Regions from separate parts of the Homo sapiens genome. Here region 1 is linked to region 2. The links come from fine-mapping of genetic effects on gene expression. A gene starts in region 2. The other region holds a variant in brackets. All regions are shown on one strand. Distances are from middle to middle.

Region 1 (5,381 bases), 120 kb before region 2:
AGCATCCAACTCAAAGAGTGAGTCCTCCCCTTTCCCATACTGCAAGATCTAAATTGGTCTTGGAACGGAGAACACAAGGAAGGGCCAAGGGACCAGCTGGGCAAGGAATCAGCTCATTAGTAGCCTCTATGGAGGTGTTGAAATTGAGCAAGTTAAAAGCATATTAGTTTAAATGAGACTTTTCACAAATGAGGGGAAGTGTTTAGGTAGGAAGCAGATGTAATCATTTTGTGATGGGGCATAATTTGATAATTAATGGAGAAGTTGTCAGTATAATCTTGAGGGAGCCCCAGGAAATGAAGAAATCTGTCTTTATTAAGGGAAACTCAGGAGAAAAAGTTATTGGAAATGCAAGTGATTCACCAGCAAGGTCCTGGTGGCAAGTCGTTATTAGATGTGCATGTTGGGACCGTCTTTCTGCCACATCTGTGTGTTTTGTCTTGATTCACCAGGCCCACTACCTCTCCTAATGGGAATGCAGAGAATAGAGAACATTGAAGGCGGTTGTGAAGCAAACCCAGGCTTCTTTCTTCCGTGCAGACGGGCTGGCCAGCGTCTGCTATGCTTAGCAGGAAAGCAGGGAGAGACAAGCCTAACTGGCTCCCTGGGGGCCAGCCAGATTTTGACTCCCTAAAGCCTGTGCAGCCAGGGTTCAGTTTCCCAGGGAGATGCTAGGAGTGTGCTTCCATGGAATATGTGAGCCCATGGAAGAGCAAGCCCAGGGAAGCACAATCCTAGTATCCCACTGGGAAAAGAGGCTGGGTGGACTCCCACTTGGCCAGAACAGGAGTCCAGGAGAAAAACCCCACAAGGGTGCCTATGCACAGTGATTAAGGCACGGGCTCTGGAGCCAGAATGCCTAGGCTCAGCTCTCCACTTGGCCACAATTTCTCTTGACATTAAGTGTGCTATTCAAGGTCTCTGTGCTTCAATTTCCTGGTGCCTATCTCATAGGGCCAAGGATGGGAAGAGTAATTCTATGTAAAGGACCCACAGCAGTGCCTGGTGCTGAAGGTCTGCTCAACAAGTGTAGTTAGCATTTGCCGTTAACTACTAGCCATGTATGGCATTTGAGCACTGGAAATGCAGCCAGTCTTGGTTGATATGTGCTGTAGGTGTAAAATGGACATAGAATTCAGACTTTGTGCAAGAAAGAGAATATAAAATATCTCATTGATAATTTTTATATTGATTACATATTGAAATGATAGTATTTTGAATATATTGAGTTAAATAAATACATGTTATGAAAATTAGTATTGCCCGCTCTTCTTTTCTTATTATAGTAAAAAACACTAACATAAAATTTACCCTCTTAACCACTTTTAAGTGTACAGTTCAGTAGTGTTAAATATGTTCACATTGTGGTGAAACAGATCTCCAGAACTTCTTCATCCTGCAACTCTGAAACTCTATACCCATTAAAAAACTCCCCATATGCCTCTCTCTTCAGCTCTGGCAACCAACATTCCACTTCTTGTTTCTAGGAATTTAGATATTTTAGATACCTCATATAAGTGGAATCATACAGTATTTGTCTTTTTGTGACTGACTTCTTTCACTTACCATAATGTCCGCAAGCTTCAGCCATGTCATATCATGTGATAGGATTTACTTTCTTTTTAAGGCTGAGTAATATTCCATCCTTTTTTTTTTAGGGTGACTATTAGAAAATGTAAAATGTATTTGTGGTTCCTATTATATTTCTACTGGATAGTGCTAGTTTAGAACTAGCGGTTCTCAACCTCATCAGTTCCAACCCCTCCTTACCACAATGAATTTGTAACACTCTCTTCACTCTCCTGAAATAAACTGTATAGATAAAATAACTCATATGCACACATAATTTTTAAAAAAGAACAATATAATAACCTAACTGTAAGTATATAGAATAAATGAAAGGAATCTATAGAGAAAAAATATATTTTAATTTACTGTTAGACATGACCACTTAATACAAAATAATCAGATGCTTCAATGAATATGTAAAATCACCACTAATGGGATAGGTATCAATGCAGAGTAGTAACTCAAATTTTAGGAGTGATGTTGCCAGCAGAAACATGATGTCCTGAAATGAAACAGCTCAGTAAAATTCCAACAAAACAAAGTACAATTTTCTCTCTATTTATATGGTTACATTCTTACAAAAATGCATGTAAATTTAAATGAAGTAAAATATATAGGTATATATGGAAACTGTAATTAGGTTCTGGGCTAAGAGACTTCAAAATAGATTTTTCACCTAAATGAAAGCCCAATGAGATATTTACAAATCAAGAGGACCCCAGAGAAATTTTTCACTTTGCAGAGCTGCCCTGTGCATTGCAGAACATCTTGTTTCCCTGTGTCACTGTATATCTATCGAAGGCCTATACCATCCTTCAACCACTGGGACAATCAAAAGCATCCCCTCTATTTTCCAGTGCTCTCCCATGGAGGCAGCAGAGCCTCCACTGAGAAGCAGCGATACTGAATTGTGAGAAACACAGTGTGGTGATCCCAAA[G/A]GTTCACTGTTCAGGAGCTGCTCGGCTTTTCTGCCCGGTGGTCTCATCCATCCGCGGTTCCCACCATGGCTTTCAGTAACTCAACGTGAGGGGAGTCCTCTGGTCCAGCAGTAACCACTCTCCAGCACAGACCAGAAGGCTAGATGCTGAAGTTTCTCCAGAACTTCAAATACAACAGACTCAGCCCTTTTCCCTGTAAACCCATGCCTTTCCTTGACATCTTAGTTTCACTGTCACCAGTGTTTTCTCCAACCCCACCCCGACCCTTACATAAGGCAGAATCACCAAAGCCTCTTCTCTCTTTGCTCATGGCCTCCCATTTCCCCTGCTTCCAGCTTCCCTGCCTCTCCCTTGGATCTGCAGGTTTCTCAGTGGCCCCTCATTGCTCTTCCTCACTCTAGTCTGCCACCGCCACTCCATCCTGTTCATCACAGCCCATGAAAACTGGGAAGCATGAGGTCAGCATTCAGTTCTTTGCAGTCAGGCCCAATGTTCCTTTACAGTCCTCCAGAAGTCTCCACCAAGAGCTCTTCCCTTTCATCTGAGTGAGAGGCAGCATAGCCTAGTGGACAAACTCAGGCTAGGATCAGCAAGAGCTATCCTGTATTGACCTAGCCCTGCACAGTCATGAGCTGCTGAATGATGGGATATGTTCTGAGAAATGTGTCTTTAGGCGATTTTGCCATTGTGCGAAACATCATAGAGTGAATGTATACAAACTTGGGTGGTATAGCCTACTACACACCCAGGCCATGTGGAATAGCCTATGGCTCCTACGCTAAAAGCCTGTACAGCATGTTATCATACTGAATGCTATAGACAACTACAACACAATGGTAAGTGTTTGTGTATCTAAGCACACCTACACATAGAAAAGGTGCAGTAAAAATATGGGATAAAAATGTTTTAATGGTACATCTGTATAGGGCAGCTCCATTATAATCTTATGGGACCACCATTGTATATGCGGTCTGTCACGGACTGAAATATGGGTTTCTTTTTTTCTTTTCCTTTTTTTAGAGACAGGGTCTCGCCCTGTCACCCAGGCTGGAGTGGAGTGGTATGATCACAGCTCACTGTAGCCTTGAACTCCTGGGCTCAAGCCATCTTCCCACCGCAGCCTCCCCAGGTAGCTGGGACTATTAGGCATGAGCCACCATGCCCGGCTAATTTTTTTTTCTGTAGCGATGAGGTCTTGCTATATTACCCAGGCTGGTCTCAGACTCCTTGGGCTTCAAGTGATCCTCCTGCCTCCACCTCCCAAAGCTCTGTGGTTACAGGCGTGAGCCAGTGCGCCCGCCCTGAAACATGAGTTCCTATCCAAACTTCACTCCTTATTAGCTGCCTCTGGGTAAATGAGTTAGCCTCTATGTACCTCCTTCTTCCTCTATAAAATAGGCTTCACCATATGTGCTCTGTGGTGCTGTTATAGATAATTAAGAATGTGCTTGTAAGACACCAAGGACTAGGCTGGCTTGTAGGAGAAACAGCCACTGCTGGGTCCCTAGACCATGTTTTCTCTTCTTCAGCATTGTTCCTTCTCTCTACACATTGAGCCAAATATTTGCACAAATTTCCTGTCATCTCAGTCAGACAGTTATCCCATAACAGACCATAAGGGGAGCTAAGACCTCATTTCACTAGATATGGACTAAGACAAAAAAATATGTATTTACTAGAAAACAAAAACAGCACTTTCGGTGGACTGTAAAGTTCCCGAGGGCCATGAGAAGTAATAACTGATGGGCACTGAGCCAGCAGGTAACTGACTGTACAGCTCTGGTTTTGCGGGTGGGGTGGATGTGTTTGGGAACTGCAGAGGCCATAGAGACTGTCCGCCCTGGCCCCTCAGTCCTGCATGCCCTCTGCACTCAGCCTCAGTCTCTCTAGCAGGTGAAATTCAAGCAAAGATTTTTAACACATCAATTTGAAGGAGTGTCCGATGCATGCCAGCCCTGGGTGCCTAGTGTCTTCTCCTGGATATGGCTGCATCAATGCTCAGGCTGTCATTCACAACTCCAGGGCCCACCTGGTCTGGGAAGCTTTTCCCATTTTGTCACTCCCTGGCCATCCTTCCCTTCTTGGAAGTCCCGAACACTCACCAAGAGCACATCTGATGATCTTCTCAGTTGGGTTTTTGTATCTCAGTGAAATAAATGATGAACCTCTCAGGGACAAGAACAGCATCTTGCACCTCTTCCCATCCCCTATAGCCCCAGGTCACTGCTATACTAGGAGACAGGCAATGAAATGTGACATGAGTGAAGGATAGAGACAAATGTTCACAAATTCAGGAAGAAATCTCAGAGTGTGGGGGATGAAAGAAGTTAATTATTAGCTCACTTTATCTGAGCTGGCTTGGGTGTGGTCTTGCTTAGAGGACAGGTGAGGTGGCCCAGCCGATGGTTTCATGGCACTTCTCTCATCAGTGGGCTCTGTTCTTCCCAACACACATGCTGGACTCTCAGAAGGATGCATCTCCCTCTGTGCAGATTTTGCCGTGAATTACCAGATAGAGATCAATATTAAGTGTGGTCTCTGCTGACTAAAAGTTGAAGACCGTCTCAGAGTGCCTTGAGGAGATGGACTTGATTCCCTAATAGTGCCTACCATCCATTGAAGGGGGAATTCTTTTGGCATAAAAAATTCAAGCATCCAAGTGGAGGCCCCTTCCCCTCCCCTACCAAAAAACAAAACTTGAAAAAGAGCTCATTCCCAAAGTTGTTTCTTCAGAATACAGAACCTACTTGAAACAAAGTTTAACCTTTCTGGGGTTCAAGTTCATTTATCCTTTGCATATACAACTTCAGCAGCTTCTTTATTTCTAAGAACAAAGTCTTGTTAAAAGGAAAAAAGTCTCTACAGTCTCCTTGG
Region 2 (5,381 bases):
TTGCTCTTGGCACCCTAAGCTACTGTGTAGAGAGGTCTGGTTACTCTGCTGGAGAAACTAGGTGGACAGAAAGATGTCTGGCCAAACCCAGCTTTTTCAGACATGCCAACTGAGCACCAGACATGCATGAAGAAATTATCTGGGATGTCCCAGACTTAGTAGATACTACACTAAGCAGAACGACCCAGCGGAATTCAGAATTGGGAGAAAGTGTTTTAAGCCGCTAACTTTGGGGGTAGTTTGTTGTGCACAGGGTTCTGTGGTGTGCTGGATGCCCTTTAAAAAACCTCATGAAAAACTAAATTTGTAATTGGTCAGGGCCAGGTATAGTGGCCTTCCTGTTACATATTTTATTCATGCAACCGACATTTGAGTTCTATAATACAGTGGTGAGTGTGGCATAGATATGTGCTTTCATGGAGTTCTCCAATGGATGAGATCAATAAACAGGAAACAATAAAAAATAAGCTGGGGACACCATGGAACCATCCTGTCCTCTCTTTCTGTGGCTCACAACCTCATTTTGCCTTTATGAATAACCCAGTGAACAACCTTAGCAGTCAGAATAGGCAAGTTGTGTTGATACAATGAACAATCCTAAAACCTCAAATGATTGAAAAACCACAAAAGTTTTTATCTTATACATGTTTCTTAGGACCACAAAGGCTCTGCTCCACATCATCTTCAGTGATACAGGTTGATGTATCCTGTCTCCATCATTTCTGGAGTGTTGCCAGTCTATGGAAAAGGAAAGGAATGTGAAGAATTGCTCTTAAAAAGTTATCACATTTTTCTTGGCCAAAGTATCACATGGCCATGCCTAACTTTAATAGGGCAGAGAGGCAATCCCTAATCCTGTGCTGGGAGGAAAGAAAACCAAAAATAGTTTTTGAATCAACAATCACTACCAGCAAACATTCAGTCTCTCTAGCTTAATTCCTTAGGAGCTGGATTTTGTGACAATTTTGGGTTTCAGATCTTTTGATATGTCTTTTCTTGCCACCTTCACCTGTAACCAGCAAGCTAAAACTTAAAGGGTGGAAGGGAGGAGAGTTTATTGAGTACCTACCCTCTGCAGGGCAATGTGCCAATGTACAAATGTACTGCATTTCTTCACATCTTTCAGACTTCACTTTGGCTAGTGTAAGATAGATCATTCATCAGCTTTAGTGCTGTATACAGGACTGACTAATGAAGAAATTGTGACAGCATGGAGATAGAAGAAAAAGGAAAATCAATATAATTTTAGAACTGGAATGTGACTAAGATCGTTAAATCTAACCTTTTGAACTTAGGATGAGACAAGGTTCTACTCTATATTGTCCCAGCTCTGAGCTTAAAACTGAGGGGAAAAAAAAGATATCACTGAGTAATGGTAGAAGTTCACCAGTAACTATCAGTCATGCTAGCTCCCCCTAATTGTTTTCTGTCTCTAGATGTTTATGCCTAAGACTTCGCATGTTGGGGTTGAGACCTTAAAAGTGAGAAAATCTATATACTTCTCTTTTGTCTTAAAATTGTGTGCAAATTCTGCAATACATCTTAGATTTAATCTTTAAAAACCTTTTCTGCTGGGCATGATGGCTCACGCGGGTAACCCAGCATTTTGGGAGGCTGACGTGGGTGGATCACTTGAGGTCAAGAGTTTGATACCAGCCTGGCCAACACGGTGAAACCCCGTCTCTACTAAAAATACAAAAATTAGCGGGCATGGTAGTGTGTACACCTGTAGTCCCAGCTACTCAGGAGGCTGAGGCACGAGTCATTTGAACCCAGGAGGCAGAGGTTGCAGTGAGCCGAGATTGTGCCATTCAGCCTGGGTGACAGAGGCTGAACAACAAAAAAAAGGGTGAAAAAAAACAAACAAAAAAAACCCAAAACCTTTTCTGACCTAACCTTCCACTAAAATAGCTAGATATAGATCTTCAGCTGGAGAAACCCAAGGCCTGAAAGGCTTGGTGTCTTTCCTGGATTAGTAGTGTAGCAGTATAGCATATGACCCTAGAATTAAGGAGCCCCAAATTTGCATCTGGATTTTCAGATTCTGGAAGAAGAACCTGGACTCTTCTAGTCATGTGCTCTTGGACAAGTTATTCAACCTTTCTGAGCCTCAGCTTTCTCCTCTCTACAATGAGATAATTACAGTACTTTTAGAATTAAAAGATAGTTTAGGGGAGTGAGAGATCACCTCCAACCCTCCCTCCCCTTTGCTCTTATGTGGGCTCTTTGGTTGAATCTAGGAACCAAATTGACACATGGCAGATTAACAAGAGAAAAGCATACTAATTTTACTAGTTTTACATGTACATGGGGATCCGCACAAAAGAGTGAAGTGGCCAATGTAAGATGCCTTTATACTTTTTACACGAACTACAAATCAGAAGAAAGGGGATCTGGCTAGGGGCAGTAAATTTCTCGCGGAGTCATTAGGAGAAAAGTGTGTGTGTTGGGGTGTAAACTTAGTGGAAGATAACGGTTACTTCGGAAAGTATATTCAGGTCCAAAGCAGCCCCCAGTTTCGTCTCTGGTGATAGGTGCTATTTTCTCCCTCTGGTAAGGGACGGGTACTCCAGAGGAATCCTGGAGGAAGCTTTATGGCTTGCTGCATGCAGGAAGAGATAGGTCATCAAACCTTTTCTGAAACTACAATTTCTCCAATATTTTCAACTCGAAATAATCAATGTACCAATTCCATATATTTTTGGGATGGCACATCCATCAGTCCTTCAATAGAAAGTAAGACGATGCCCTTAAAACATTTAGCTTCCTGCCTGGCACAAAGAGCTGAATTAATACTGTCCACGCTCCCATAGCTATTAACAGCAAATAACAGAACCCAGCTTTAAGCCTTGGTCTCCTAATTCCTGACCTGTGTTCTTCCCATCACATCACAACCAATACTTCTTAGAATGTAGCACGCAAAATGCCCCGCCTACTCCATTGGCCTCACCCTGGCCGAGAGGTGCTTACGCAGGTGCTGAACGGCAGTCGTCAGAACTGCGCCTGCGCAAGCGGCCTTTCTCTGTTCGCGATGTGACGTAACGCGCCTGCGGACTGGGCCCAGCTTGTCCTCTATGACTTACCCAGAAGGCAACGCTTCTCTTTCTGGTCAAAATGGCTGGTAAGCAGGCCGGTAAGTAACTGGGGGTCTTCTTGGCCGGCATCGTCGCGCTTCACCGTTTATTTTTGCTGCAGCTTGCTCCGTTTTCTCTCTTCTTTGTAAGTGGCCAAGTTTGTCGCGGAAGGGAAATTGGCTGCTTCAGTCCAGTGAAAAGGATGTGCTTCCCCACTCGTTTGCTGTCCCCAGGGCGGGCTTGCCTGTATAGGGTTGGGATGTTAACCCGCTGTTTGTGAAGGTGCCCGCGGTGGCTCTGACAGCCCTGGAGTTCCAGCTGCCCGTGCTTGGAAGTCCTTCCCCTTGGCCTTAGAAAAGTTAAAGGGCACAAGAGGATAACTAGTGGATGACTTTCAACCCGAATGAGCTCAGTGCTTTCTATGACCCAAGTGCTCTATCGTGTGCATTGGCCCTATAAATTTTCTTGCCATTGCGACGAGGGAGATATTAATTTCCCTTTTACGCTGATAAGATAACTGAGGCAAAGTGACCCAAGGAAGTAGAATTGGAAATATCATTGCACCCCTCGCGCTTCTCAAACTGCGAATCAGAGACAGTTGAGCAAGGGATACGAGCGACGCTTCAGGTTGACCTTGGATTATCTAGAGCGTCAGCTTGATCAGTAGGTTTGGAGAAATTTGAATTTATTGTAGGTTCTTTTTTTCTTTTTTCTTTCTTTTTTTTTTTTTTTGCTAATCTCTGCCCTCTGGCGGTACAAGTTGGAGTAGCCGTTTTGTTTGTTTGTTTGTTTTGTCTTTGAGACGGAGTCTTGCTTTGTCGCCCAGGCTGGAGTGCAATGGCACAATCTCGTCTCACTGCAATGCAACCAAGTTGGAGTAGCTTAAAAAATGTTGATCCTTTTCTCCCCGCCCCCAGCAATTGTGAAGCTGTTAGGAAACATCAGGTTGCCAGAAACATCCGTTAACCTAATTGACATTGAGCTTTTTGGGGGTGGGGGAGACTTTTTAAATAATTATTTTATTAATTTGGCAGATATTGAAGGAGTCTTACTAAATTCAAGACACTGCTTCTGTGCGTGTTTGGGAACTACATAGACCAGATCTCAACTCCCATTAGCTAACTCTGACCTTGGGTGGGATCACTTCTGTAAGCCAGCTTCCCCTTCTGTAGTAACAGACATGTAAATAAATCAGCTAATGTTGGTAAAGCAAATAGGAAAGTGTTTGGTGCACAATAAGTGCTTAGTGAATATTATTATAGTCACTGATAGGTGGTTGAATATAATCTGTCTTCCACAAGTATGTTTGTAGATTGTTGACTGATACTTGTTTTTCTAGCAGCAGTTTTATACATGACTCTTAATTTCCAAGGAGATTTGCTAAAGCCACGTAATCTGTAGTGCACTGAGTTTGCAAGCAAGGAGAGTTGAGTGAAAGGAGAGTTTGCTTTCCTTCCTTGGTAAGGGCTAACCCTAGACAAAATTTTAAAAGAGAATACAAACCTGTTCTACCTCTCCTTTTGTAAAATGTCTCTCCTAAAATGTCAGATACGGTCCTGCTGTACTTGGACCCTGCTGGGTTACTTCATCAGGCTCAGCCCTGTTCCCCAAACAGTTTTAAAATTACCTATTTCTCATCCTTTTTCAATATCCATTCCCTTGGGGGGAACTTAGTTGCTTAGGAGGAGGTAAATGGACTTCTTTTACGAATCCATATTAATGTTTAAATGACTAATGGTATCAAAATCCTCCCCAAAATACATACATTTTTAAAGAATGTGGCCAAATGAAATAACTGTAATATCGAGTAAAAATTTTAGAGGATGAGGGTCATTTAGACCTGCCAGTCTATGCTGAAATCTCACTGTCTTTTCCCTACAACTCCAGCTCTCTTGAAATGAAAAGTTTACAATTATTTCCTGTGATCTATTTATGAAACTACAAATGATGGAAATTTCCAAGTCCTTTTCCTATCTCCCACCCCTTCATTTCTGAAGGTAACAGGGCAGGCATAAGGGCACACGATGTACCTATGGATCTTTTGTACATTCAGTGTTTGAGTTTACCCTTTTCTTTCATGACTTGCCACCATTTTCCTGCAACCACTTTTGCTCATAAATAAAATAAGCACTTTTTATCAACATTTTATAGAGTATAAACTTTTTTCTTTTAAATCTAATTCTTTTGATTAAATTCTTGCTGTATATACTATATACTTTTAAAAGGAAATTTATTTCTATGTTTGCATTCATCAGCAAGATAACTGAGTACTGGTTGCTTGCCTATCAATGTGTTCATATAGTATAA

Alleles and levels. Alleles are on the strand shown, and positions count from the first base shown. SD is a standard deviation of normalised expression in the study named.
As copies of A replace G in region 1, the expression in thyroid of the gene that starts at base 3,100 in region 2 goes down (moderate effect, 0.62 SD a copy in GTEx).

The links. PIP is the estimated chance that this variant, and not a neighbour inherited with it, causes the effect. A credible set is the group of variants that fine-mapping cannot tell apart.
Region 1: its variant is the best candidate, but not a certain one, in a credible set for the expression of UQCRB in thyroid (GTEx, PIP 0.88).

The regions. Positions count from the first base shown.
Region 1 is chr8:96,354,094-96,359,474 of GRCh38, reverse strand. No RefSeq gene overlaps it. Among named protein-coding and RNA genes, the nearest start is that of PTDSS1, 95 kb to the right of the region's middle. The variant G/A (reference allele first, on the strand shown) is at 2,508.
Region 2 is chr8:96,233,264-96,238,644 of GRCh38, reverse strand. UQCRB (ubiquinol-cytochrome c reductase binding protein) reads left to right here and starts at 3,100. Exons shown (of 4, transcript NM_006294.5): 1 at 3,100-3,133. The coding sequence starts at 3,115. UQCRB-AS1 (UQCRB antisense RNA 1) reads right to left here and starts at 3,352. Exons shown (of 2, transcript NR_183275.1): 1 at 3,084-3,352; 2 at 1-738. RefSeq lists an enhancer at 3,094-3,373.